7 linked regions of the Homo sapiens genome follow. The protein of the gene in region 5 purifies or fractionates together with the protein of the main gene of each other region. This does not show direct contact. Each region holds a gene or a part of one and is shown on either strand. Other genes may lie near its edges.

Evidence for each region.
Region 1: the proteins of NUCKS1 (region 5) and PHF14 purify together in Homo sapiens (affinity purification with mass spectrometry; one large-scale study listed by BioGRID and IntAct). This does not show direct contact.
Region 2: the proteins of NUCKS1 (region 5) and RAI1 purify together in Homo sapiens (affinity purification with mass spectrometry; one large-scale study listed by BioGRID and IntAct). This does not show direct contact.
Region 3: the proteins of NUCKS1 (region 5) and KAT7 purify together in Homo sapiens (affinity purification with mass spectrometry; one large-scale study listed by BioGRID and IntAct). This does not show direct contact.
Region 4: the proteins of NUCKS1 (region 5) and CHAMP1 purify together in Homo sapiens (affinity purification with mass spectrometry; one large-scale study listed by BioGRID and IntAct). This does not show direct contact.
Region 6: the proteins of NUCKS1 (region 5) and PRKRIP1 fractionate together in Homo sapiens (co-fractionation; one large-scale study listed by BioGRID). This does not show direct contact.
Region 7: the proteins of NUCKS1 (region 5) and BRPF1 purify together in Homo sapiens (affinity purification with mass spectrometry; one large-scale study listed by BioGRID and IntAct). This does not show direct contact.

Annotation. Positions count from the first base shown.
Region 1 is NC_000007.14:10,980,372-10,983,871, forward strand, and holds part of PHF14 (PHD finger protein 14), read left to right. Parts: intron 1-2,000; coding exon 2,001-2,788; intron 2,789-3,500. UniProt on the Homo sapiens protein: Histone-binding protein. Binds preferentially to unmodified histone H3 but can also bind to a lesser extent to histone H3 trimethylated at 'Lys-9' (H3K9me3) as well as to histone H3 monomethylated at 'Lys-27' (H3K27ac) and trimethylated at 'Lys-27' (H3K27me3).
Region 2 is NC_000017.11:17,792,958-17,796,457, reverse strand, and holds part of RAI1 (retinoic acid-induced protein 1), read right to left. Parts: coding exon 1-3,500. UniProt on the Homo sapiens protein: Transcriptional regulator of the circadian clock components: CLOCK, BMAL1, BMAL2, PER1/3, CRY1/2, NR1D1/2 and RORA/C. Positively regulates the transcriptional activity of CLOCK a core component of the circadian clock.
Region 3 is NC_000017.11:49,787,432-49,791,480, reverse strand, and holds the start of KAT7 (histone acetyltransferase KAT7), read right to left. Parts: upstream 2,801-4,049; 5' UTR 2,647-2,800; coding exon 2,632-2,646; intron 2,419-2,631; exon of another isoform or gene 2,371-2,418; intron 1-2,370. UniProt on the Homo sapiens protein: Catalytic subunit of histone acetyltransferase HBO1 complexes, which specifically mediate acetylation of histone H3 at 'Lys-14' (H3K14ac), thereby regulating various processes, such as gene transcription, protein ubiquitination, immune regulation, stem cell pluripotent and self-renewal maintenance and embryonic development.
Region 4 is NC_000013.11:114,317,503-114,321,002, forward strand, and holds part of CHAMP1 (chromosome alignment-maintaining phosphoprotein 1), read left to right. Parts: intron 1-3,500. UniProt on the Homo sapiens protein: Required for proper alignment of chromosomes at metaphase and their accurate segregation during mitosis. Involved in the maintenance of spindle microtubules attachment to the kinetochore during sister chromatid biorientation.
Region 5 is NC_000001.11:205,715,753-205,719,182, forward strand, and holds part of NUCKS1 (nuclear ubiquitous casein and cyclin-dependent kinase substrate 1), read right to left. Parts: intron 2,728-3,430; coding exon 2,528-2,727; 3' UTR 1-2,527.
Region 6 is NC_000007.14:102,409,863-102,413,362, reverse strand, and holds part of PRKRIP1 (PRKR-interacting protein 1), read right to left. Parts: intron 686-3,500; exon of another isoform or gene 479-685; intron 1-478.
Region 7 is NC_000003.12:9,741,735-9,745,124, reverse strand, and holds part of BRPF1 (peregrin), read right to left. Parts: intron 3,101-3,390; coding exon 2,954-3,100; intron 2,774-2,953; exon of another isoform or gene 2,584-2,773; intron 2,182-2,583; coding exon 1,872-2,181; intron 1,548-1,871; coding exon 1,224-1,547; intron 902-1,223; coding exon 617-901; intron 118-616; coding exon 1-117. UniProt on the Homo sapiens protein: Scaffold subunit of various histone acetyltransferase (HAT) complexes, such as the MOZ/MORF and HBO1 complexes, which have a histone H3 acetyltransferase activity.

The sequences.
Region 1 (3,500 bases), on a different chromosome or scaffold from region 5:
CTTTCTGTGTCTTAGAAGTGTTGAGTCAACTCTGGTTATTATTTATTAAATCATAATTTTAAAATGTCAAGAGATTACTATTATTGTTATTTTTACCAGATGTGATTTTTCTTGGTAGGTTGGGTTTAATTGCTGTGAGTGGTTTACAAAATCATAATTTTCTTAATGCTTTAGAGACTGAAAAGAAGTCACTTGTTTGTGAGTAATATTGGGTCCACACTCTTGAAATCCAAGAAGCTTAAAAATCCAAGTGTTTTGTAAGGTTCACACAAACTTACTTGATGGCAAAGCCTAACGGAACTGGTAGGAGTTTATTTGTAGTATTTATTTCTCATACTCTGTAAATAGGATTTATACTTTTCTCCGCAGAAATAATGTTTGATTATAGGATAATACCATGGACTTCACTGGGGGTATTAGTGTAATATATGGTGCATGTTCCATGTTACCCTTGAAAATCTGAGAAATTATGAATTCTGAAACACATCTGGTTCTTAAAGTTTCAGATAGGGAATTGCTGACCCGTATGATATTGCTCTTGTATCCTATGCAAGGTTGTTTAGGATAAGAGTGTTTTTTTCAGAACAGTCCCAAGTAAGCTATGGATACCTACATGACAGTTGTGAGATTGATAATGATTTCATAGGGTCAGTCAGTATCTGTTAAATGTTAGTGTTTATTTTTTATGCAATTTTGCTTGCAGGATGTTTTTGTTAGCAGTCATTTGTATGTGACTTGTGGGGTTCACTAGATACCAGATACTAATTACAGACAGCTTCCTTCAATTTTAGTGCTTAGTTAATTACAGAGGTTAAGCCTAGTTGAGTTAATAGAAATTAAAATGATGTGGAAACACTTTACTTTTTCCACCATTTTATCATTACCTTTTTCTTGGCTATAGGTGCAAAAAAATTCATCATCCTGTGGATTTTACTGGCTAAGACTTAACTGGTTTCTTCCCCATCTCCTACTGCTCCCTGTCCTCTTTCCCTCCTCCCATTTATTTCTCGCTTCAAAGATTTTAGATTGTTATTTACTTAATTGGGTACAAAAAGAATGATTACTGAGTACTTACTGAGTAATGATTACTGAGTTACTAAGTAGTGTTGGGTTGAGAGGGACTGGGCTGCCCTAGGCAGGAGTGGAAGAAACCTGCTAGAAAGCTTACAGTCCTGTGAGCTCTTTAATGTCTTCAGCCTAACTTTTTAGTAACCTCTGTGACTGCTCATTTTCAGGATGGACTGCTTTATTCATCAATTTCTTCCATTCTAGAGCATATAGTAGTTACTGCGTAGAAGTTTTGAAAGTGTAGTGACTCTTCTTTTATTGATACGAACAGTATCCTAATAAACAGGAAGATTGATAATTTCTCTTGCAACTTCCTTTTTCTGTGCCATTGCTGTTGTCTCTTTTCACCTGTGTTCTTGGTATTCCTAAAATTTGTTTGGTATATTAGAGTTGTAGTATAAGTTGACTATCATAAATATCTATGCTTATTTTACTGGGTAAAGAGTAAAATAAATGAAGCAGTTTTATGGGTTAGATTTATCTTGTTTTGGTTTTGACTCAATACTTACAAGTCCATATAGTTTATAAAAGATGTTTAAGGGAGGAAGAATTTTGTCTGTATTATCAGTAAAATTAAAATCAAGTGCCCAATCTTAAAAGAAGCACATTTACTTTAAAAAATAATTGCCTTTTCAGTACCAAATATTGCCATATGACACAAATTAGTGCTTCTCTTTTTAAAGCATATTTTAATTTAGGGTTATCTATATTCATCTTCATTAGCACTATACTGAACTAAAACCATTGTATCAACTTCATTGATTTATTATTTGATCAGGTTGGGAATGTCTACCATTCTTTGACTTAAATTTGTTTATATTGTTTTGCAAGTTATTCACAAATTTTGGTGGTTTCATTTGTGTCAGCGTTGTGTGTGTGTGTGTGTATGTATATACATATGTGTGGTTTTTTTTTTCTCATATTTTCAACAGATTCTGAAGGGAGTGGTAATGGAAGTGAAGATGCTTCAAAGGACAGTGGAGAAGGTTCCTGTAGTGATTCTGAAGAAAATATTTTAGAAGAAGAACTGAATGAAGATATTAAAGTAAAAGAAGAACAACTTAAAAATTCTGCAGAGGAAGAAGTACTATCATCAGAAAAACAATTAATTAAAATGGAAAAGAAGGAAGAAGAAGAAAATGGAGAAAGACCTAGAAAGAAAAAGGAGAAAGAGAAGGAAAAAGAAAAGGAAAAGGAGAAAGAGAAGGAAAGAGAGAAGGAAAAAGAAAAAGCAACAGTATCTGAGAATGTGGCTGCTTCTGCTGCTGCCACCACACCAGCCACAAGTCCTCCTGCTGTTAACACATCCCCTTCTGTTCCCACTACGACAACCGCTACAGAGGAACAAGTCAGCGAGCCAAAAAAATGGAACCTTCGACGAAACCGACCACTTCTGGATTTTGTGTCCATGGAAGAGCTGAATGACATGGATGACTATGACAGTGAGGATGACAATGATTGGCGACCTACTGTAGTAAAGAGAAAAGGGAGATCTGCGTCTCAGAAAGAGGGAAGTGATGGAGACAATGAGGATGATGAAGATGAGGGAAGCGGGAGTGATGAAGACGAGAATGATGAAGGCAATGATGAAGATCATAGTAGCCCTGCCAGTGAAGGGGGTTGCAAGAAGAAGAAGAGTAAAGTTCTTAGCAGAAACAGTGCTGATGATGAGGAACTGACCAATGATAGCCTGACCCTATCTCAAAGCAAGAGTAATGAGGTAGATCAACCCAATTTTTATATCTGTCTGTCTGGGGAAAAGGGAATTCTTCTCTAAATCACTCTACACATTGTATTAAGTGGCTTCCTTGAAATCCTATTTATAGACGGCTGTGGGATGAATGAGCACCCTAACTGTAACATTTTTTCATTTGGCCAACAGACTTTTATTAAATATCTACTATTTGTCACCGTTCTCAAGGAGCTCACAATCTCTGTCCTCAAGGAGAAATATTTAGAGAAATATTTTTATATCCATAGACTTGGGAAATGACAAAGTTTTCCATTCTCCTTTTTATCCCTTTACTCCTTTGTTCACAGGACTGCTGAATGGTGCTGAGTGCATTATGAAAACAAAGGTCACCTTTCTTTCAACTTAGTTGTGTCCATATCCATATTAAAATATAGGCCTTTAGAATACCTTAGAGCAGGGCAACAGTCTAATGATTTTCTGAAACCTTTAGAGATTCGTTTTAAATATTAATTCCTTTACCAGTTGTAGCACTCATCATCTTTTTAGTCACCAAATCTTTGCTTTATGTGTATGGGACATACACATAAGTATGAACTATTTTTACATATATTTAGTAAATAAATTCTCTCTACAAAGAAATGGAATAAAAACCCAAACATTTCCATCATAAAACAGACATTTTTGTCACAAAACTGCAGTAATGGCTCAGTGCTTCTACTTGAAGTTCTACTACTGAAAG
Region 2 (3,500 bases), on a different chromosome or scaffold from region 5:
TTGGGGAGCCGGCCCTCAGAGGGCCTCCGCCGCTTGGAGTGGAAGATCTCCTGGGTTTTGGTGCGTGACCGAAGGATCATGGAGCGCTGGTCCTTGCCAGGCGTGCTGGGTGAGTCTGTCTCCTTGGTCTTGGAGCCCATCGGGCTGCTGTCGGAGGCCACAGGCAGGGCGGCCGGGTTGCTGGGGCTGGAGGCAGCCTTGGGTGAGGGCTTCCCCACCCGCTTGCCCGACTTGAAGGCGGCTCGCTGCTTGCCCCCCAGTTTGTCTGGGGGTGCAGGGGTGGTGGTCAGGCCTGGGGGTCCGGGCGTGCGGGGCTCACTCAGGGCCGTGAGAGAACGAGTACACATCCTGGGGAGCCCTTCCGAGGCCCCCCGGCCTGGGGCTCCAGCCCCTTCCATCTGTCCCTGGGGGGGCCCTGTGCAGGATTCAGGGAGCAAGAGGTCTTTGGGCAGCACTGGTGCCCTGCATGGGGAGTCCTCGGCCTCGGGCAGCCCCCGGTGCACCCGACGGCTCCGTAAGCTTTTGCCCCGTGGCACAGGCTCTTTCTTTGCGATGGGCGCCTCGGGCACAGCAGGCTTGTTGGGCTTCTGGGCCAGAGAGGCGTCCGAGGTGGTGGAATCCCCTGGAGCTCGCTCCCCATCAGGCCCCTCTTCACCTGGCTTCATGTGTGACAGAGAGGACTCAAACCAGCTCTGGACCTTTGACTCGGTGCCCACTGTAGGGCCCAGCAGGATGACGGACTCCCCTGAGAGGTGGCACGGAGAGCCCCAGCCGGCCTTGGAGTCCAGCACCTCCTCCACCTCCTCCTTGGTGCAGATGAGTGGGGCCTTGGGTGACAGCGGGTCCTGCATGCCAGGCCTCTGCTCGGGGCTGCCCAGGAGCTCACATAGGGAGGAGTACTCCTCCTCAGCTTCCAGGTCCTCCTTCCTGCTGGTGGGTGGCAGCAGTGGGAGGTCCCCGAAGTCGGCGGTGGAACAGCAGTGCCGGCTGTCCTCCAGCCACCGGTCAGCCTTGGCCACCTCGGGGCACTGCAGCAGCCCACCTGCCTCCTCCTTCACCCCACCCACCTCCTCCTGCTTGAAGTCCCCGGGCAACGAGGCCACCTTCTCCCCAGGGGGGTCCTCCTCCTGGAAGCCCAGGCAGGCCGAAGCCTCATGGGTGTCCCCTTTGCTGATGCCATCTGAGGCCTTCCCACCCTGCTCCAGGCCCTTGGTAAGCTCGCCAGGGTGCAATCCCCACCTGGGACAAGCATCCCCCAGGTTTTCCTCTGGCCAGGCAAAGGGGTTGGCGCTGTCCGCTGAGCTGGCAGCGGTTGTGTCCGGGAAACAGTCAAAAGCTGCTGTAGTGGGGTCTGGAGCAGGAACCCCAAGGGTGGGCTTGGTACCAAAGGAGAGAGGACCAGTTGTCTTTTTGGGGTCAGGCGTAGCGAAGGCCACGGAAGGGTCTTCAAACAGCCCTGGGCTGAAGTCCTTGGCATTGCCGCCCTTGTCCAGCTGCAAGGAGTCGGGCAGGGCCTCCGGCTCCCCAGGCCGGGGCCACGCACTCTTGGCCACAGAGTCCAGGCAGGCGCTGTGGTTCTCCAGCGAGAAGGGTGGCTTGCTGCTGTCCTTGACCAGGCTGGGTGCTTCAGCCCAAGCTTTGTCGGCCTTCTCACCGATGGCTTCCTGCAGCCCCAGGATCTCGGAGGCCAGGTCCTCCTGTGCCAGGGCGCTGAGCAGCAGCCGCGGACAGTCCCGCTCACCCGCCACGAACTTGGAGAAGCTGTCGAGCGGCAGACTGCCGTGTAGGCTCTGGAAGGAGTCGTCAGATTTGGTGGACATGTCGTCAGGAGAGGTCACAGAACAGGTGGACACGGACTCGGGCTTGGCCTTCGAGTTGCTGTTGACCCTGGCAGGGCTGCCACGGGCCTGGTTGCAGTAGAGGAAGCTGCGCTCCAGTGGGTCCTCGGAGCCGCTCAGGTAGTCGGCCTCCTGCGGCTCCGCATGCGTGGACTGTGGCGTGCTGCTCGGCGGCTCTGACAGCGGTGTGCCTGCGGGCTCGGCTGAGTAGCCGCTCCCTTCGGGGCTGCAGTGCTGGCTTTTATGCTGCTCTGGGGTCCTGGACACGAGGTTCTTGACACCTTTCTTCTGCGGCACAGCAGCCTTGGAGAGCAGCAGCTGCTGGACGGTGTTGGAGATGTTCTCCACCTGTGAGGTCAGCGCCGTGAGGCTCTGCAGGCTGAGATCCGACAGCAGGTTCTCAGGGAGCTTGTCCTTCTGAAGGGGCTTGCAGTTGCCAGCCTGGGTGTCCACAGAGCTGGTGGCATCCGTTGGGGAGGGATTGAGCAGGGGCATGAAGTGGCTGTGGTCAGTGATCCCTGCGGGGAAGGCCCCGGTGCTGAGCGGCTGCTGGCTGTAGGGAAAGTTCTCCAGGTTTGGCATCAGCGGCGACGGTGTGGAACTGTAGGAAGGTGAGCGGCCCACGGAGCGGGCGGGTGAGTGGCTGGAGCTGGGGCTGAAGGTCTGGTAGTACTGCTCTGGGGTCCGGACGGCTGCGTCCGGCTGGCAGTAGCCCTGGCCTTGCTGCCCGTAGTGCTGATACTTGGCGAGGTTTTGGTAATGGAGGGTTTCCTGGGCATGGTGCCGGCTCTGAAGGGCTTGCTGCTGCTGCTGCTGCTGCTGCTGCTGCTGCTGCTGCTGGTCATAGCTGAGGCGGCCCGACTGGTAGGCATGAAGATTCTGGACCCGCTGCCCCGGGGCCAGGCTGGAGCTGGCAGTCAGCGGCCTGTCATGGGGCTGGGCAGTCGGTGCTGTGCAACTCTTATAGGAGTGGGCCCCCTGCCCACCACCCTGGACAGAGGAGGAGTAGGTGGAGGAGGTGGGGAAGGACTGGGAATGCTGAGGAAAGTGGGTACCCTGGGGGAAGGGCAGAGGGGAGGCAATGTCGTTCTGCAGCTTCTGCCTTTGGAGCTTGGGGTATGCCAGGGGCTGCTGGGGCGGCGGTGGCTGCTGGACGTGCAGGGAGTGAGTCCGAAAGGGCACCTGGGCGCCCTGCTCTGCATACTGCCTGCTGGGGGGCACTGCTGTCTTTTTCATCAAGTTCTCATCATACTTGGCCACCCCTGCAGGTAGTGGCTGCGGCTGTGGGGGTGGTGGCTGTGGGGCCCCCCAAGCCTGAAGGCTCTCCTCACCAGCATAGCGGCCTGGGTAGGGGCTGCTGTCCTGGACGCCGTAGCCAGGGAAAGCCGGCCTCCCCTGCAGGCCTTGCTGTGTGGGCAGGGCCTTGCTGCCTCGGTGGTACTTGTCGGCGGCCACCGCGGCTGCAGTGCCAGAGGGCGTGCCAGCGCCACCCTCATAGCTCGGGTAAGGCTGCGGGTTATAATAGTCCTTGGCGAGCAGCCGCTGCCGGTCGCAGCTTAGCCCGGCCTGACTCGGCTGCCTGTAATTCTCTAGGCGTGATGTTTCCTGCGAGGTCTGCTGGTAGTTCTGTTGTTTGCCATGGAAACCACACCTTTCTCGAAA
Region 3 (4,049 bases), on a different chromosome or scaffold from region 5:
TCACTATGTTGGCCAGGCTGGTCTTGAACACCTGACCTCAGGTGATCCACCCGCCTTGGCCTCCCAAAGTGCTGGGATTACAGACGTGAGCCACCACACCCGGCCATGAAGAGAATTAATTCTTACTGTATTAGTACTAAGTATTAACCAAGACCATTTGGAGATCAATATCACAAAAAAAGGTCCACTGTAGTGAGAAAATCGTTGGTGCTGGACCTCATTTAACTTAGAGTAGCTTTTGTTCAATGTCTCCATGAAAAGCTATCACATTTTTTAAAAACCATACACTATCTCAAAATATCATGGACCACAACTCTAATCCCAAAAGAATTTAAGCAGAAAAAGATGAAAATTGTTAGTGCGTATGCCATCTATCCTTGACGTTTCTCCACATGAAAGCCATCTATCTTCCAAAAAGGCAGCTTGCACATGAAGACTCATGGGTATTCAAAAACAGTTGTTTTCAAAACCATCTTTTCAATGAGCAAGGATTTGTCAATTATTATCCTCCTGAGGAGTTCTTTCTTAGCCATAAAGATAACTTTTATCAATTAAGCACTAACACTATACCCTTTACAAAACCAGAAAGGAAAAAATATTTACTGAAAACAATACAAAGATTCACACTGTAAGTCCCAATTATTTATTCAAAACCCTGAGGGCCAGTTGTGTTTAGAATTTGTAATTGTTTTGGATTTTTAGAAGGGGAGTACTTTGCATGTATCCTGCAAATACCACCCAATAACAAAACATAATAGTATTTCTGCAGCAAAAAATATAAACAGTCACACTAAATGAGACACACAAAAACCATAAGTAGCCTCAGGACAGATTAAGACAGGTTTGCCGCCAAACAGGTTACTAAAAAAATGTACATTTTCAAGTAACTCCCGGTATTTGGGAAATTAAGAAAGAGGACTGTGGCCCTATTTCAAGGCACCAATATTATTCCTGCATTTGGTGAGCCTTTACATACATACCACCGGCCGGGCGTGGTGGCTCATGCCTGTAATCCCAGTACTTTGGGAGGCCGAGGCGGGTGGATCACCTGAGGTCAGGAGTTCGAAACCACCCTGACCAACATGGTGAAATCCCGTCTCTATTAAACATACAAAAATTAGCTGGGCGTCATGGAATCCGCCTGTAATCCCAGCTACTAGAGAGACTGAGGCAGGAGAATCGCTTGAACCCGGGAGGCGGAGGTTGCAGTGAGCCAACATCACGCCATCGCACTCCGACCTGGGCAACAAGAGCAAAACCTCGTCTCAAAAACAAACAAACAAAAAAACACATACATACCACCCACCAGCTGAGGTCATTTTAGGAGACATTAAAAAGTGTACATTTTCAACCTGAAAAGCCGCTGTGAAGAGAAAGATTTCTATTGATATGAGCAAGAATACCACCCAGTTTTCCAAGTATCTTAAGGGTAACCTGCCAGGAAATGAGCAAGAATCACAGAAAACGGCTGAAATGAAGGGGGAATCTTAAAAGTCACCATTATAGTCTAATTACCGAGATATTTAAAGCCTTGACGTGAGACTTATTCCTTCCTGGCTTGATCCTGGAACTCAGCTCTTCTCTGTGGCTTTTACCAATATATCTCCCATTGTACTCCAGGGCAGACTTAACTGCTCCTTCACTTCCTTCCAGCAACACCTTGTATACACCTCCAAGCTGAGAACTTACTAGATCCTTCTAAGATTATTCATGTCTGTTTTCTCCTATCGGGCTGTGACACCCTTAAGCCAGGGATCACATCTAATTAATTTCTGAATCCACAGCAACCACCGCGCAGAAAGTAGTCAATAGACATTTGTTGAATTGAGTTAGATTTGTTCTATATTCTGGATCTGCCACTGCCTGAGTGGCTTGCGGCACTCCATGGGCCTCCGTTAGTTCAGCTGTAAGAAGAAACGACGGGGCCATTCCTGGGTGATCTTCTAAGTGCCTTCTAATTCTAGAAGTTTTTAGTTTTTACCAACTGCATTTTCTAGGCGCTGTCGAACTAGCAAATAAGGAAAGAGGCAACTGGCCTGAGAGGGATCCCCTGCGAGTGGGCGCTGGCTTCCCACCACCCAGTCTTCTGCTTTGTTGTGCCCCTCACCTGGAAGGTAACGAGGCCTCCAAAACCCCGCCTCTGCACCTATCAGCGTCCCCGCTCGGAAAGGCGGGGATTCGGGCCACCCAATCGAGGTCCGCCTAAGCCGCGCCCCCACAGGACAGACTGCCAACCTCGACCAATCAGGAGAGGAGGGATCGTTCTCTCCAGCCAGTGGGAGAGCGCTGGGGCCGGGGCCAGACACCGCCCCCGCACGCGGGGAGGTGACCGTTGAGCCCAAACAGGCGGCGTCACCAGCCAATCAATATGCTTCCAGACGTTTCAGCGACCAATTAATAAGAACGCCTCCGATCCAGGCAAGCAGAGGGCGGGAATAGTTGCAAGCATAGGCCGAGGCCAGGGTCGGGCCCACATTTTTCTGTTGGGTATGGACAGAAGAGAGGGTAGCTGAACAAGGTTCGGGGGAGCGGAAAGTTGGGACCCAAGCACTGTGAGGCGTGGCCAACTGCGTCACGGTGCTCAATCGACTGTCCTTAGAAACCCGCCATCCCTCCTCTCCCGTTTCTCACCTTCCTTCGCGGCATTGCCGGCGGCTGCGGCCCGACGGTTCCGATTCGGGCAGCGGCGGCAGCAGCAGGAACGGTGGCTCCGGCGGGCTCCGTGGCGGCCTCTGTATCAGTCCCAATCCTGCGGACGATCCCTAGTGCCTCCTGCCTCTCAGCGTCTGGAGCGTTCTGCGCAGGCGCCGCGGGCTGAAGCGCTTTTTCCTTCACTTCCGGCTGGGTCTCGCGTCACCTGACGTTACGGGCCAGAGAGGGTGCTGGGAAGTTCGATCCTTTTGGTGAAGCTAGTGGGCGCCATTTTGAAGTTGGGCAGAAAGTGACTCCAGTGGTGGAACCCGGAGCCAACCATTTTTAGTTACGTGAGTGGCTCTGTTTGTGGGCGTGGGTAGCCATTCTTGTTTGGGGCAGAAGCCTGACAGTTGATGTAAACGGTTCTCATCTTTACCTTGGGCAAAATTTCGTTTTAATTTCTAGAGTCGAGGAAGGAAACCCCCCAGAATCCATCAGGTTGCTGAGATTAGATTTAACCCCTTCGTAGCCTGATTGTTTAAAGGACGTTTCCGTTTATTATATAAACTCAAAGTTGCGGAGGGATGTTTTGTAAAAGAAACTTTGTATTTTAAGAAACATCGTGGTCTCGAAGGGGTGGGAATGGGGAATTGAAAAAGGAACTAACGGATAGCGTCCGCCATCAAGTTTCCTGTCTGGTAGAGGAGACATTGTCCTTGCCCTTAGCTAACAGCAAGTGAGTTAGTTGATGTCGCGGGGAGGAGGCAAAACCATTCTCCAGAAGCTGCAGGTCAAATAATTCCCAATTTAGCTCTGTGGCGAGTGCCCACTTCCTAACCGCACTGTGTTTGGGTTTGAGACCACTGGGGGCCCTGGGGTGAAAAATGTGATTTGAAAGTGGGGAATGCAGTACCAGAGTCAGAAAAGCTTTGAACCCCATTTAGCTCAAATGACCTCTGGCATCCAGATGCTTGAGCAGAGAGTTACGAGGCGGAGGAAGAGGAAGGAATGTTTTTAGTGAAGTTGAAGCCCCCAAAAGAATGGACATTTAAATAATAATGAGAGGGCCTAGGAAGGAGAAGTTGGTCACAGATACTAGGCTGAAAGAAGAGCCTTAAGAAAAGGCTGGAAAGTGGAGAGCAGGCGTTGAGGATTTAACCTCTCCGGAGGAAAGGCCTTGAGAGGACCAAGTCTTGACCAATTGCGACTGGGTGGAACCCAGGCACGCTCAGTCATTAAGTTAGGATCCCGAACCCCAATTTCAAACTGAGGCCCCGTTAAGATGGAGATTTCCCCCAGGAGCAGGGCTAAAGAACAAAGAAGCAGAAGGTAAATATCTGATTGATGTGCTAAGTAAAGAACTCTAAAGATTTAAAGTTCCAGACCTTTAGCCAGCACTCTCCTTGGGGATGTCC
Region 4 (3,500 bases), on a different chromosome or scaffold from region 5:
GGTCCCAGCTACTTAGGAGGCTGAGGCGGGGGGATCTCTGGAGCCCAGGAGTATGAGGCTGCAGTGAGTTGTGATGGCGTCACTGCACCAAAACCTTGGGCAACAGAGCGAGACCCTGTCTCTAAAAAAGAAAAAAAGTCCGCTAAGATAAAGAACAATGCTAGTGTGTATAGACTAATAGAACCCATTTAGCTTTGAACATGTTCTACTTATTGAATTTTAATTTAAAAAACTATGCATCAGATGTGTTTTAAAAGATGATCAGTGGTGTTCGACTTCAAAGAAGAAATTGAATGGGAGATGGGAAATAGGTATGATACACCATCTGGCATAACATTGCATTGAAGGATACTGGGTGATAGACTGGCAGAGCACCAATGATTAGAATTTAGGTTTTTTAGAGACGAGATGTAATCTGTCTCAAAGACAAAAAGAAATTTTTGTTAATCTGGACAATTCTGAGTTAATTTTTAGTTAGGGTTAGGAGTTCTTAAATTTAGGAAGAAATTTTGCTAGAACCTAAAAGCTGGAAGGACGCCCAGCTCTCTAGGCTTTGCCTAAAAGTTGAATTCTGGGACTAAATTCTGTAACATCTTCGTGGATCGTTCTGCTACTGTGGGAAAGACAGCATTTTGTTACAGCAGAGACCAGAATTGAGAAAACCAGAATAAAAAAACTGTTCCCTCTGACCTCAGTGTTGTGATCTTTGACAGGTCACTTCTTTCCCTCAGCATCAGTCTTTTCAGTTATAAAATGAAGAGGTTGAACTCAAGACCTCTGAAGATCCTTCTAGTCCTATGCTGATCATCATTTTTTTTTTTTTTTGGTTTTCTTTTTTGAGACAGGGTCTCACTCTGTCATCTAGGCTGGAGTGTAATGGTGCAGTCTTGGTTCACTGCAACTCCTGCCTCTCAGGCTCAGGCGATTTCTCTTGCCTCAGGCTCCCGAGTAGCTGGGACTATAGGTGCATTCTGCTGCACCCGGCTAATTTTTGTATGTTTTGTAGAGACGGGGTTTCGCCGTGTTGCCCAGGGTGTTCTTGAACCCCTGAGCTCAAGGGATCCACCTGCCTCAGCCTTCCAGAGTGCTGGGATTACAGGCCTGAGCCACCACACCCGGCCTGATCATCAGATTCTAATTATGGAGTACTCCTACCTGACAAAGGAACTCGTTCTAGTTCATGATAGAGTAGATTGTAAACTGTGTTAAGCCACAATTCTTTTCCTGCTAGCTTCTGATTGTCACTTCTAGGATAGCTCATATATTATCTATAATTCTTCCCCTTTTGAAGTTAAATGTCTTTATTTGTAAATGACTTTTTTTTTTTTAAAGGGCCATCTGCCATCCTGGTTGCCTTTTTTTTTTTTTTTTTTTTTTTTTTTTTAATGTTCCCTAGTTTGTTAGAGACTCTCTTAAAGTGTCCTTCCTGCCCAGAGCTGGGGACAGTGATCCACTGGAATAGTGTACTCTGCCCAGTGCAGAATATGGGATATAGTTCTCTATAGTCCTGTATTTATGCACTTGATATGTGGATTCTAAGTGTTTGTTTCATCTTGTTTATTTTGGACTATTGTACAGGCTTTAAAAGATCTTACTAAATTCCACTGTATTAGTTTGTGTATATCTACAAAGAACCTGGACAGATAGCAGAACTTTATTCTCTCATCAGATACTGATCATTTGTCTGATTTGGGCAAGCTGTTTAATGTCAAGCTTGAGTTTCCTTAACTATAAATTGAAGTTTTAAAGTAGATGATCCCTGAGGTCTTTTCCTACCCTCAAATCCTATGACTTTGAGACTAGATGGTAACTTAGGTTTCCTCTAGTTTTAAAATCCTGTGAGTCTAAGATTGAGAGAATGTTAGGATTGAACAGAGCACATACTGTGTGTCAGGGATGTGCAACGGTTCCAGAGGTGAATAAAGGGATAATAGTCCCTCCTCTCCAGGAGCTGGCATCCTGTTTTTGGTATCAGGCTGTAGTGCCAGAGGGTGACATGTACAGCTGGGGCTTCTAGGAAGATTGGGAAGAAGTGGGGAATTGACCAGTACAGTTGACTCATGAATAACAGAGGTTAGAACTTCAACCAAATGCCAATAAAAAAGAGCGTTTACAGAATGTGAAACATTTATATGGAGGGCAGATGTTTCATATATGGGAATTCCACAAGGCTGACTGTAGGACCTGAGTATGTGTGGATTTTGGCATATGGGGGAAGTCCTGGAACCAGGTCCCTGTGTTTACAGAAAGACAGCTGACTTAAAAAGCTGTCCTGCCTGAAGGATGAAGGAGTTTGCCTGATGGCCGGGTGGCAAGACAGGGAGTGTAAAGGAGAGGAAATAGTTTATACAAATGCACAGACGCTGGAATAGTCAGGGAGTTACATGTGGGCCAGTATTTTGAGAATGCAGTCTGGTCATGGGCCAGACTGTGAAGAGCTTTATATGCCATATTCAAATTGTATACTGTAGGTGTCTTAGTTGACTTGGAGGACATGTGAACAGGCAGATCACATTAGGCTTCTGTTTGGAAGACAGGTTTGGTAGCTGTACGATGAATGGGTTGGAAGAAAAGGAGACTAGTGGCAGGGAGTTCAGATGTCAGAATTAAAGCAGTGATAGGGGTAGGGGATAGAGAAGGGGTAGATGAATGTGCTGGAGCTAATCAGAAGCATAATATGAGCTGTTGTGTAGCTTGTGCATGGCCAGTTTATCACATTCTGTTCCTGTCAGCAGACTCACCCACACCATGATGCTTTATCTTTGAAATGCATGCAGGAAGAGAAGAGGGCAGAGCAATCACTGAAGCAGGTCCATGTGTTCTTCCTTGGGGTCAGGACACTGCCATCCTGCTCCTCCCAGAGTCCTTTCTTTTTGTGCCTCTTGGTCCTCTTTGTTGTGGTGTCCCTTCCTCCACTGCCTGTTAATTTGGCACTCTGCTGTGTAATATCAATAATTGACAAAAGTCAGCCATTGTTATAGTCAGTAGTCACACCAGCAGTCTTCTGAGTGCTTATCAGAGAAGTGAAGTTAGGTGGTGGGTTTGAGAAGGATTTGATTACACACACGGGCATAATTCCATAGTGGATCATTAAAGAGAAAGTAGACAAGGATGGTGTCAGGAGTGGTATCTACTGTAGTCTTTGGTGTCATTTCATAAAAGTAAGTGTTCGGGCTGGGCGCGGTGGCTCACACCTGTAATCCCAGCACTTTGGGAGGCCGAGGCGGGCGGATCACGAGGTCAGGAGATCGAGACCATCCTGGCTAACACGGTGAAACCCCGTCTCTACTAAAAATACAAAAAACTAGCCGGGCGTGGTGGCGGGCGCCTGTAGTCCCAGCTACTCAGGAGGCTGAGGCAGGAGAATGGCATGAACCCTGGAGGCGGAGCTTGCAGTGAGCCGAGATCGCGCCACTGCACTCCAGCCTGGGCGACAGAGCAAGACTCTGTCTCAAAAAAAAAAAAAGTAAGCAGGCTTAGTGGACTGGACTCCTCTCACT
Region 5 (3,430 bases):
CTATTGCCATTTCACCATAGGCACACTAGAGAAAAAGAGGAAGGTTAGTCAAGGATGGTGCCAATGGCCAGTCAGTATCGGCTTACAGCTTGTAATGCGTCCTGACATCACTATCAAGCCTGACTATTGAGCACCTGTATCCAGTTGAGTCACCACCACTGTCCTCCTATTTGCATGCATGATTTGAGGGGAAGACTAGAGTGTTTTAAATCATCAATAAAAAGTGGAGAAAACAAAGGTTATTCAGAGCCTGTCTCACTTGGGGACACAGATCCTTCTGTCCAGTCTATCAGAAATATAGAATACATTTTTCAATCTAATGAATTAATTTTAAAAGGGACCCTAAACAAGAAGCCCAATCAAATGCACACAAGTAATCTAGAAGACATGATTACCTCTAAAATATGTGCATATATCACAGAGATGTTAGTGCAGATTAATATATTAAAGAGACTGTTAAACAACTGAGGCTGAAGTTTTAAAAGAGCCCTCCCCCCAAATCTTCACGAAACATAACCTAAGAAAAGCCCAAATGTTACTAGGAATGTAAGACTTAAAATTATAAACTCCTAAAAAATAGAAGTGCATGGTGGAAACACTGATAGGTCTTTTACTATATGAACACAAACTTCTTTGTTAAAAATGGATACCTGAACAAACCCATTTAGGCAAATAGATTAATCTTTAACACCCTCATTACAAAGTTCACACCTCTGAATTTAACCGTCATGAAAGAGAATGATCCAACTGCTATTTATGTTCAAGTCCTGTATTTTTGGCCATGTAACTGAAAACTCCTTATTCATTCTTTAACACACAGTGCAATAGTGAAATGACTCTGCCACTGTGTGTTTTTTAAAAAAAGATCAGAGTAAGCATGTTCCTAGTAAACCACAAAGTAGGATATTGAGGAAGCAAATCTAGATTAAAAGGCAGGAAAAAAAGGCAGAAGTTTAAATTTCACTAATTTTTCAATTTATTAGCATACCAGGACCCTTTAAACCTTGTTCCCATTAGCGCCTGGTATTAGATGTGAAGGATCAAACCTACGGATCTATCTCCTGACTGCTTTTATAAGGCGTGTAAAAGTCGGTTTTCAACTGCACACAGGCCTCCTAAAATGCCTTGTTTCTCTAGTCCCTCCTGCTTTAAGCAGCATGAGCAGTAAAGCAGGGGTTGGACCAAATAAAAAGACAAGAGCTAACTGAATTGTATGGGAGCAGCATTTAACATATTCCTAGTCAAGGACAGGATGGGAAGTAAGTGAAGAATAGGGCCAGGAAAATAGTGTCCTATAGCAGAGGTGGTTGGCACTCGGGGTAGGGTGTGCAGTGGTGCTCTACGAAGCAGCAGGATCACAGGGATGTACTTCTTATCACATTTCTATGAAGAAATGGGAAGATCGGGATATGAAAAAGAAAATGTTCTATCCCCAAATAAAAGCAGAGCATGGTTAATGGGACCTGAATGCACATTTATAGCATAAAAGAATGTCAATTCTATTTCATAAAGGAAAAATCTCAACTCTTTGTGACTGAGTTTCACATTAACTGGAACTTTATTTGCTTAAAACCTAAACATTGTCAGTTTGAAAAGAAATCCACTGTGACCTGTAGACTGATCTTGTTGATTAAATTCTAGGGTTTTTTTTTTTTTGGATTCTTGGTAAAATTTTATCCAAAAAACAGGATACATATATATTTAGAGAAGGAAATATGAAATCAAGAGTTTTGGCAGCCCCTGCTTTTTTTTTTTTTTTAGCTCCCTAAAGACTGTAGCAGGATAAAAGGATCACTGGCTCCGAGTCTCTTTGAGATAACAAGTGATGAAATAAAAAAGAAAGCCCATACCCTCAAATAAGGTCAGGTAACCCCATTGCCCACCCTCCCTACAAGGTAAAAAATGAGTACTTTTAGTAACAGTTCAGAATTCATCTTTATCTCCTACCTGCCTCATCGGTGGAAGTTTAAAGTCATGATTTTTTTTAGACATTGATACTTGTGTCTATAGACAAATAAACTCATATTAGATGACAATTGATTTTTTAAAAGTCCAGGTAGAGAAAGGAGCAATCATTTTGAACTAAAATCTTTCTATGTTTTTTGATTACTATTCAACTTGCTATTTTTTAGCAAAAAGCGAAGTTTCAATAGTGTTCATCTCAAATCTTATTGCTTTACAACCGTGGTACACCTTTCATTAAAAATAAAAAGATGAAGCAGTCAATCCAGTGATTAATTTGACATGGCTTTCATTGGGAAAGGGGAGGGCTGGCAAAGAGACCAATAGACAAAAAGGTAACTTAAACACTTACACATACAATGGTTTGCTTTAAAAAAAAAAAAAAAAAAAGAGAGAGAGAGAGAAATGTTACTTTCAACAAATGGAAAAAAGCACTGAAAGCCCATGAGTCAAGCCATAGCCAAAACCATGTTCTATCTTAAGTAGGTTCTTTTTTTTCCTCCCTCTTTTTTCTTTTTTTTTCTTTTTTTTTTTAATAAAATCTCTCCCCAGACCATCATCACTTTTAATCCTCCCCAGAAGGGGCTTCATCTTCAGACCCTTCATCCCCAGATTTCTCGGGTGGGGGGCTTGTAGATGTTTTCTTTTCTGGCGGGCTTTCCGGTTCCTCATCTTCTTCTTTGGGAGAAGGAGTCTTTTCCTTTGATGCCTTTGAAGCTGTGGGGCGACCCACTTTCCCTTTGCCTTTCACTGGACTTGGCGTCACTGAAAATAGAAAAATAATTTGGGGAAGGGAAGAGAAAAAAATGTCTTTAATAAAAGTCAGCTACAAAATACAACAATCTGTAAGAATAAAATCTATAAAGACAATATGCAACTTACTAAAAACCAAGGTGGGCACAAGGGAGCACATATATCCCTAGGTAAATCTATCTCAGTTTCTAAACTGGTCATAAGTTACTACACTATGCTACAGTATTTCCCATCAGTTTTTACCAACACTCTATGATGTTAGCAGTAATACCTGTAAAGAAGAAGCACCATGCTATAGAATATGCACAACATCCTTAATTGCTTGGTAAACTAACAGTTGTTTATGATAAAAGTTGTTTATAAAAAGCAGGTCAAAAAGACGGAAGGAAAAGAATTAATCTGATCAGAAACTAAAGCCATCAAATAACATTTGATAGTTCCATCATTCCTAACAGTAGGAAGTGATAAACAGAAGTTTAACAATGACTAGTTCTACCTAACAGAATAAAACCACCTACACAAAAAGCAAATTGATTTCTGATTTAGTTAACAAACTAGCTCCAACGAGGAGAAACCATTAGGGCTCAGAAAAAAATCAACTCATGTCATCAAGTGTGGTTTTATTCTGATAGCACAGAGGATGGGGTAGAGTTCAGAACGTGGAACTTAAACGTATTACTCTAGGTTTGTGCATTTTCACAATTAAGTCTTTGCT
Region 6 (3,500 bases), on a different chromosome or scaffold from region 5:
TGAAGGATTTTGGCTCTGAAAGAAACAGTTTGATCCAAACACATGCTGAGTGCCTTCTGGACACTGGATACCTGCCCCTAGATCAGGAGCTCTCAGACAGGAACAATTCCGTCCTCCTCCCCCACTGGGGTGCATCTGGTCGTGTCTGGAGACATCCAATTGCTGATGACTGGGGGAAGGTGGGTGCTCCTGGCCTCGGGAGGGTAGACACTAGGATGCCACGAGACACCCTGCAGTGACCAAGACACAGCCCCTCAGGACACAGCATTTTCCAGCCTGAGGCATCAGTAGTGCAACTGTGGAGAAGCTCTGCTCTAGATGTACCTAGTAACAAATCCCCTAAGGGCGCCCTGGATTTCTTTGATGGGCAGGCCTATGTTAGGATAAGTAAGAGTGGTGTGGGAATACATCATCTGGGGAGTTCAAGGCTGCAGAATAATCCACATTGGCTTAATGTCATCCTATGCTGTCATTTCAGACACAAGTCCCACACTGCCGGGAGTCTTCCCTGAGCTACTGGATCAGCACAGAAAACAAGCGGTGAGATGTCCTCTCCAACAACAGAACACCCAGCCAGCTGCCCCTCCTGCTTTTTAGGAGAAGAGCCAAAATAGCTTGAGTGATCTGTGCCTCTGAGTCCATCCAGGACCCACGGCGCACCAAAGCCACCTTGGGGCGCAACTCGGTATTACCACATTACTCCCATTTCTTTCCAGCAGATAACTGGAAAAGCTTGCTTACTCTCACAAAATGAAAAATAAGGAAACTGAGAAGGCAAGATAAGTGGCATACAAACCACTTCTTTTTTGGGACAGGCTCTTGCTCTGTCACCCAGGCTGGAGTGCAGTGGTGCAATCACAGCTCACTGCCGCCTCGGCTACCTGGGCTCAAGCCATCCTCCCACCTCAGCTTTCCAAGAAGGCAGGACTACAGGTGTGCACCACCACACCTTGCTTATTTTTAAATATTTTGTAGGGATGGGGTCTCATTTTGTTGACCAGGCTGGTCTCAAACTTCTGGGCTCAAGAGATCCTCCCACCTCGACCTACCAAAATGTTAGGATTACAGATGTGAGCCAGAGTCCAAGCCCAAACCACTTTTATGATGGTTATCCTTAGAACACTCTATTCTTCCCATTTGGTACAAAGCATGTACAATCATGGGGTATTAACCATTTTTTAATATGTTCAGGTGCTGGCTGGGCGTGGTGGCTCATGTCTGTAATCCCAGCACTTTGGGAGGCCGAGGTGGGTGGAGTTCGAGACTAGTCTGGCCAACATGGTGAAACACCATCTCTACTAAAAACACAAAAATCAGCCGGGCATGGTGGAGGCAGGGGTTACAGCGAGCTGAGATCACGCCACTGCACTCCAGCCTGGGCGACAGAGCGAGACCGTCTCAAAAACAAACAAACAAACAAACAAAACAACAACAACAACAAAGATGCCCAACATCACAAATCATTAGGGAAATGCAAATCAATACTATAGTGAGATACCACTTCACACCCATTAGGATAGTTACCTAAAAACAAAACAAACAAACAAAAAAAAAAACAGAAAATAAGTGTTGGTGAGGATGTGGAGAAATTATAGCCTTTTTGCACTGGTGGGCGTTAAAATGGTTCAGTTACTATGGAAAAGTATGGTGATTACACAAAAATTAAAAATAGAACTAAGGTCAGGTGTGGTGGTTCACACCTGTAATCCCAGCACTTTGGGAGGCTGAGGTGGGCGGATCACCTTAGGTGAGGAGTTCAAGATCAACCTGGCCAATATAGTGAAACCCCATCCCTACTAAAAATATAAAAATTAGCTGGGCATGGTGGTGCATACCTGTAATCTCAGTTATTAGGGAGGCTGAGGCAGGAGAATTGCTTGAACCCAGGAGGTGGAGGTTGCAGTGAGCCAAGATTGCACACTGTACTCCGGCCTAGGTGATAGAGCAAGACTCCAACTTAAAAACAAACAAACAAACAAAAAAAAAACAAGCAGCCAGAGAAAAACCACGGCAGCTTCACATGGTGGCTCACGCCTGAAATCCCAGCACTTTGAGAGGCCAAGGCGGGAGGGTCACTTGAGCTTAAGAGTTCAAAACATAGTGAAACCTAGTTTCTATAAAAAATACAAAAATTACCTGAGGGTGGTGGCACAGGCCTGAGGTCTCAGCTACTTGGGAGGCTGAAGTGGGAGGATCACTTGAGCCCAGGAGTTCAAGACAAGCCTGGACAACATAGTGAGACCCCATCTCTACAAAAAAATAACACATTAGCCAGGCATGGTGGTACACACCTGTAGGCCCAGCTACTCAAGAGGCTGAGGTAAGAGGATTGCTTGAGCCCACCAGGAGTTCAAGGCCGCCGCGAGCCGTGATTGCACTGCTGCACTCCAGCCTGGGTGGCAAAGTGAGATCTTGCTTCAAAAACACAAAAATGAAAACAAAAAACAAATTAAATGGTAGCCTTGAATCCAAACATATCAAGAAAGAGACAGACTGTCAGAATGAATTAAAAAACATAACCCAAACATTTGACGTACAGGAAACATACTTCAAATGCAGTGCTGTTTGAAAGTTAAAATCTAAAGGGATGAATGGAAGAGTAAGGGCCTCCAAAAATCTGCTCCTCCATAAAGGTAACAGAACACTGGCAAAAATCCTAAAAATCAACTTTTTCAGAACTCTGGAAATGCTCCTCGAGCTGTTCAAATGCCTGAACCTCACTAAGAGTGTGAGTTCTGTGAGTTTTAATTTCCCGTCTCCCTCTCCCCAGATCTGAGGGAGTCTTGAAAACCAAGAGCCCCCCTGCCACAGTAGCTGTAAAAATGGGAGGAGGCTGACTGGGTTGGGAGCTGTTGGAAGTTCCACTCCCAGGGTACTGGCCCTAGTTGACCTGTCTAGCAGTTCCCTGGAAACGTCTACCTGCAAGGCTTGTCTTTAGTTGCTCTGACTCAGTATTGAGTTGAGCTCACTCAACGTGAACAGCATTTTCCCCTGGGCGTTTGTCAAAAACCATCAGTGACAACTGTTTAACATCCCACCAACCAAGACAGCAGTAACGATTGACACAAACAAGAAACTGACCAAAAAGCTTAAAAGGAAAAGCTGGGACTCTAGAGGGCCACCAGAGCAGTGCACATGCCCAAGAAAGACAGCCAAGGCCCTGACCGCTCGCCTCTGCTGCCCTGGAGGCTCTGTGCAAGCAGGAAGTAAAGGCTACAGCAAATTGCAGACTGCCTGCCAGGGGGTTGGAGGCACATTCCAACACACACACAGAGCTCCTAGGCAAAGACTGGGAGATGCGGTGGTTCAAGACATTCAAGGAAATCTCTCATCTTCCACTGACCAACTAAGCTGACCGAGCAGAGACTTCAGAGTCCAAACACAACAAAGAATACAGGTTTTACAGAATTTGTTAGGAAAGTCACTAAACACACAAATAGCAACAATGACAATGATAAGCAGCAAAACCAACAAACCCTGAGGAGGGAGGGTCAAATTAC
Region 7 (3,390 bases), on a different chromosome or scaffold from region 5:
TACTGCTGCTGGACTCAGAGTCTGAGCTGCTCCGGGGAAGGCTGCAGTCATTACGGTATACCAAGAAACTCTTCTTCACTGGTTGGTTTCCACCGCTGAAGCCATTGGCTGGTAAGTCTTGGTTGAAGGGAAGGGGAGGAGGGAAGGAACCGGTCAGGAAGATGTAGATCAGAGATGACATGGAGGTAAGAGGGACTTGGAGCTTGGGTTCCCCTTCTGTGCTGGAAAATTCCTCCAACCTTGGCCAGCAGAGCTAGCTCTGGGCAGTGTCTACCACAGTTGGCCACAGCCCTGCTCCACCCCTTGCTTCCCTCGGCAGTTACTGGCTTTAGGACACAAATGGCTTAAAGGGCAGGAGATCCCCAAGGAAGGTGAGAAGAGAAAAGGTAAAGTGATACAATGGAGGCAGGGGGCCCTGGATGGGACTTTAGCTGGGTCGTAGTGTCTCTGGGCCTCAGTTTTCCCAACTGTAAGATGAGTGAGTGGAGTTAAAGGATTCCTAAGGACCCTTCTAGCTCGCTCTTTTATGGGCAAATAAAGGGGTAACTGGGAGTATGCTGGGAAGAATGGCAGCTTTGCTCACTCTCTTGGGGGGCTGGGTGATGGTAAGGCTCACCCATTGGGGGGTCTTCTGTGGACTTATCACTGTCGCTGTCTGAGCTCGAACTGGGCCGGGGGCTCCTACCCCGCTTGCGCTGACGCAGGGAACTCATGATGGGGAGCTGGGGGGGCCCCACAGGACTGCCTCCGTGGCTGGGGGTCATCTGGCTCTCCCGGTTTTTGGGGGGCCGGCCCGGCCTCTTGGGCGGTCCAGCTGTCTTCGGGTTCTTTTTGGAGAACAGAACTGAGGTTCTCCTGCCCACCTCATGTGCGGGGGTTGAGGACATGTTGGGACCCAGGCCTGGAGCAGAGAAAGAAAGAAGGAGAGTTGGTGAGGGGCCTGATTTGAGAAGGGTAGATATCCAGGGTCATGCCCTGGGCATATAGGACCATTACTCCAGCTAACGTTGGGGAGATCATTTTAGGGGCTTGGAATTTGGAAGATTAACTCTTATACAAATAGCCAGAGAGGCAGCTAAGAGGCCCCTGATTGGGGAATGAGGGAGAAAGTACAGCTAGCTGTGTAGGAGGGACCTCTGCCTGGGGAATGGCAGGGGTTGAGTGTGTGCTGCAGAGCCAAAGTCTGACTTGCTTTGGGGTCCACCTTGCCATGGGATTCAGACCTTTGCTTGTCTCCTGGCTGCTGCTCTCCTCTGCCGCACTATCTGTCTGCCCATCCTTGTCACAGGCTGCCGGGTGGGGTGTCAGACTACCCCGGCTCGAGGGGCCATGCCGCTCAGGGCCATCACGTCCCGTCTCTCGCTGATGGGCAAGCTTCCGCCGCAGTGCCGTCATCTCTTTCTTGATCATCTTTGCACGCCGTGAGCGGCCCACACTCTGCTTGCTGGCATTCACTTCGTCCAGCCGCTCCAGAAGCAGCTTTAGCTGTTCTTCCACTGGCAGGTGCTTCTGGTTCTCCAGCAAGACCAGCCGCTCTTCCTCGGCTGCTAGGGGTAGGGTTGGAGGGGAAAGGTCAGACTCAGGGCAGCCCTCAGGGCCCCTTGAACCTGGGCAGGCAGCAAGAAACCCACTCATCCCCCCTGGGCTTCTCACCAGGAACAGCTGTAAAATAGCAGCACCAAGATGTGGAATGGCGGGCACTGCTATCCATTCACCCAGTCTGGCTTCTTGGGGAGCATTCCTGGGGATAGCTTGCCACTGCTCAGCCTAGCTGCTTTCTGCCTACACTGCCTGCTCCCAGGAGGGGACTTTTGGAAAGCTGTCCATCCCCGGCATTGGCCTCTTATATGTGTGTGTGATATATCACCCACCATCTTCAGTGTGGTGTGTGGCCTCATCTCCAGCCAGGCTGTGGGGGATATGCATGCCCGTCTCAAAGTCAATGCCCATTTTTTCTGCCTGGCGCCGGGCCTGGCGGAGCACAGCACCACCCTGCTCACGAAGCCGCACTGCTGCCCGGTAGAAGATGGTGTCCTTGGCGTTATACTTGAGGCAGTTGCTGACGATGAGGTTGAAGTCCTCCTCAAAATCATCAAAATTCAGGTAGCGGTAAGCCTCCAAGTTCTGCTTCATGGTGAAAAAGTCCATGGGCTTTTTGATGTGGTCTAGGTAGTCAGGTACCTGGAAGGGCAGGGCAGGTTTGTTTTAAGTGGAGATATCCTCCTTATTGCCCCGAACCCTGCTCCTAACAAGCCCCCCTGAAACACATCCAGCAACCTCCTCCCACCACAGTTAGAGGCAGGCATATAGCACAGGGGAAAGGAAAGCTGGATTCTGGTCCTGACTTTACCAGTCACAAGCTGTGTGACTTTGGCAAGTCTCTTAACCTCTCTGGGCCTACTTTTCCTCTCCTGGAAAATGATGAAAGTAGAGCCAAATATACTTTCTAGACTATATGAGGCTTTAGTAAGAAAATGGCTTGGGGACTCCTCTGAAAATAAACACCACCTTGCATTCCTACAGCTCTTTTTACTTAACAGTAACTTATAAGGAGGCTGCTGCCTCAGGCCTCTCATTTTATACCTTTTAGAGAGAAGAGTCTGCCAGTCAGGACCTAGGGCTTCAGAGCTGGTTCTTTAGGTGCTGAGCCTTCTAAAGTCTCCGTTCTAGGGTTCAGCACCCCGAAAGTGTCTTCCTGCCCTGGGATTATTCATTTGGCAGACTCAGTCCCTGCCTCTGGGGAAGGAGTGCAGACTGCCTCCCATTCTGGGCCCTTGGGGTGTGACAGGGACAAGACAGAGTCCAGGTGATACATGTGGCTCCAGTTCATCCTGCCCCAGAGCCACCAGCCCCTCTCTTCAAGGTCCCCATCTAGTCCTGGCCCAGACCTGCAGCAGGGGTCCAACTGGGAGAGGAACAGAGAGAAGGTGGAGTGAGGGGAAGGGATTCTTACTTCGTCCAATTCGGTTACCTCAGACAGAGGGACCGGCTCGCTGAAGATGTTGCCTGTGTCCTTCTCTTGGAGCTGCTCCAAGGTTTTGCGAAGGAGGATGAGGAAAGGAGTCAGCTGCATCTCCATGGCAATCTGCTGAACCTTGATCTAACATAGAAAAAGGCCTGATCAGCCAGGCCTCGGCCAGTTCAGTGGCAAAGAGGTCTGAGGATATGGTCCCAGCTGGCCTGGGAACCCGCCTTCTTTCCCACCCTCACAGCTGGGTGTACTCATACAGGTCTACCTTCTATGAGGCTCCACCCAGGGAAACTTGCACCAACAATTCTGGCTTCCCCCTTTCTTGAACTACCAGCACCAGCTACCTATGTCACATAACTGAGGATTCTGTTCATACGCTCCTGTGACATTCTGCTTCCAGCAGAACTAAAAGCACACCG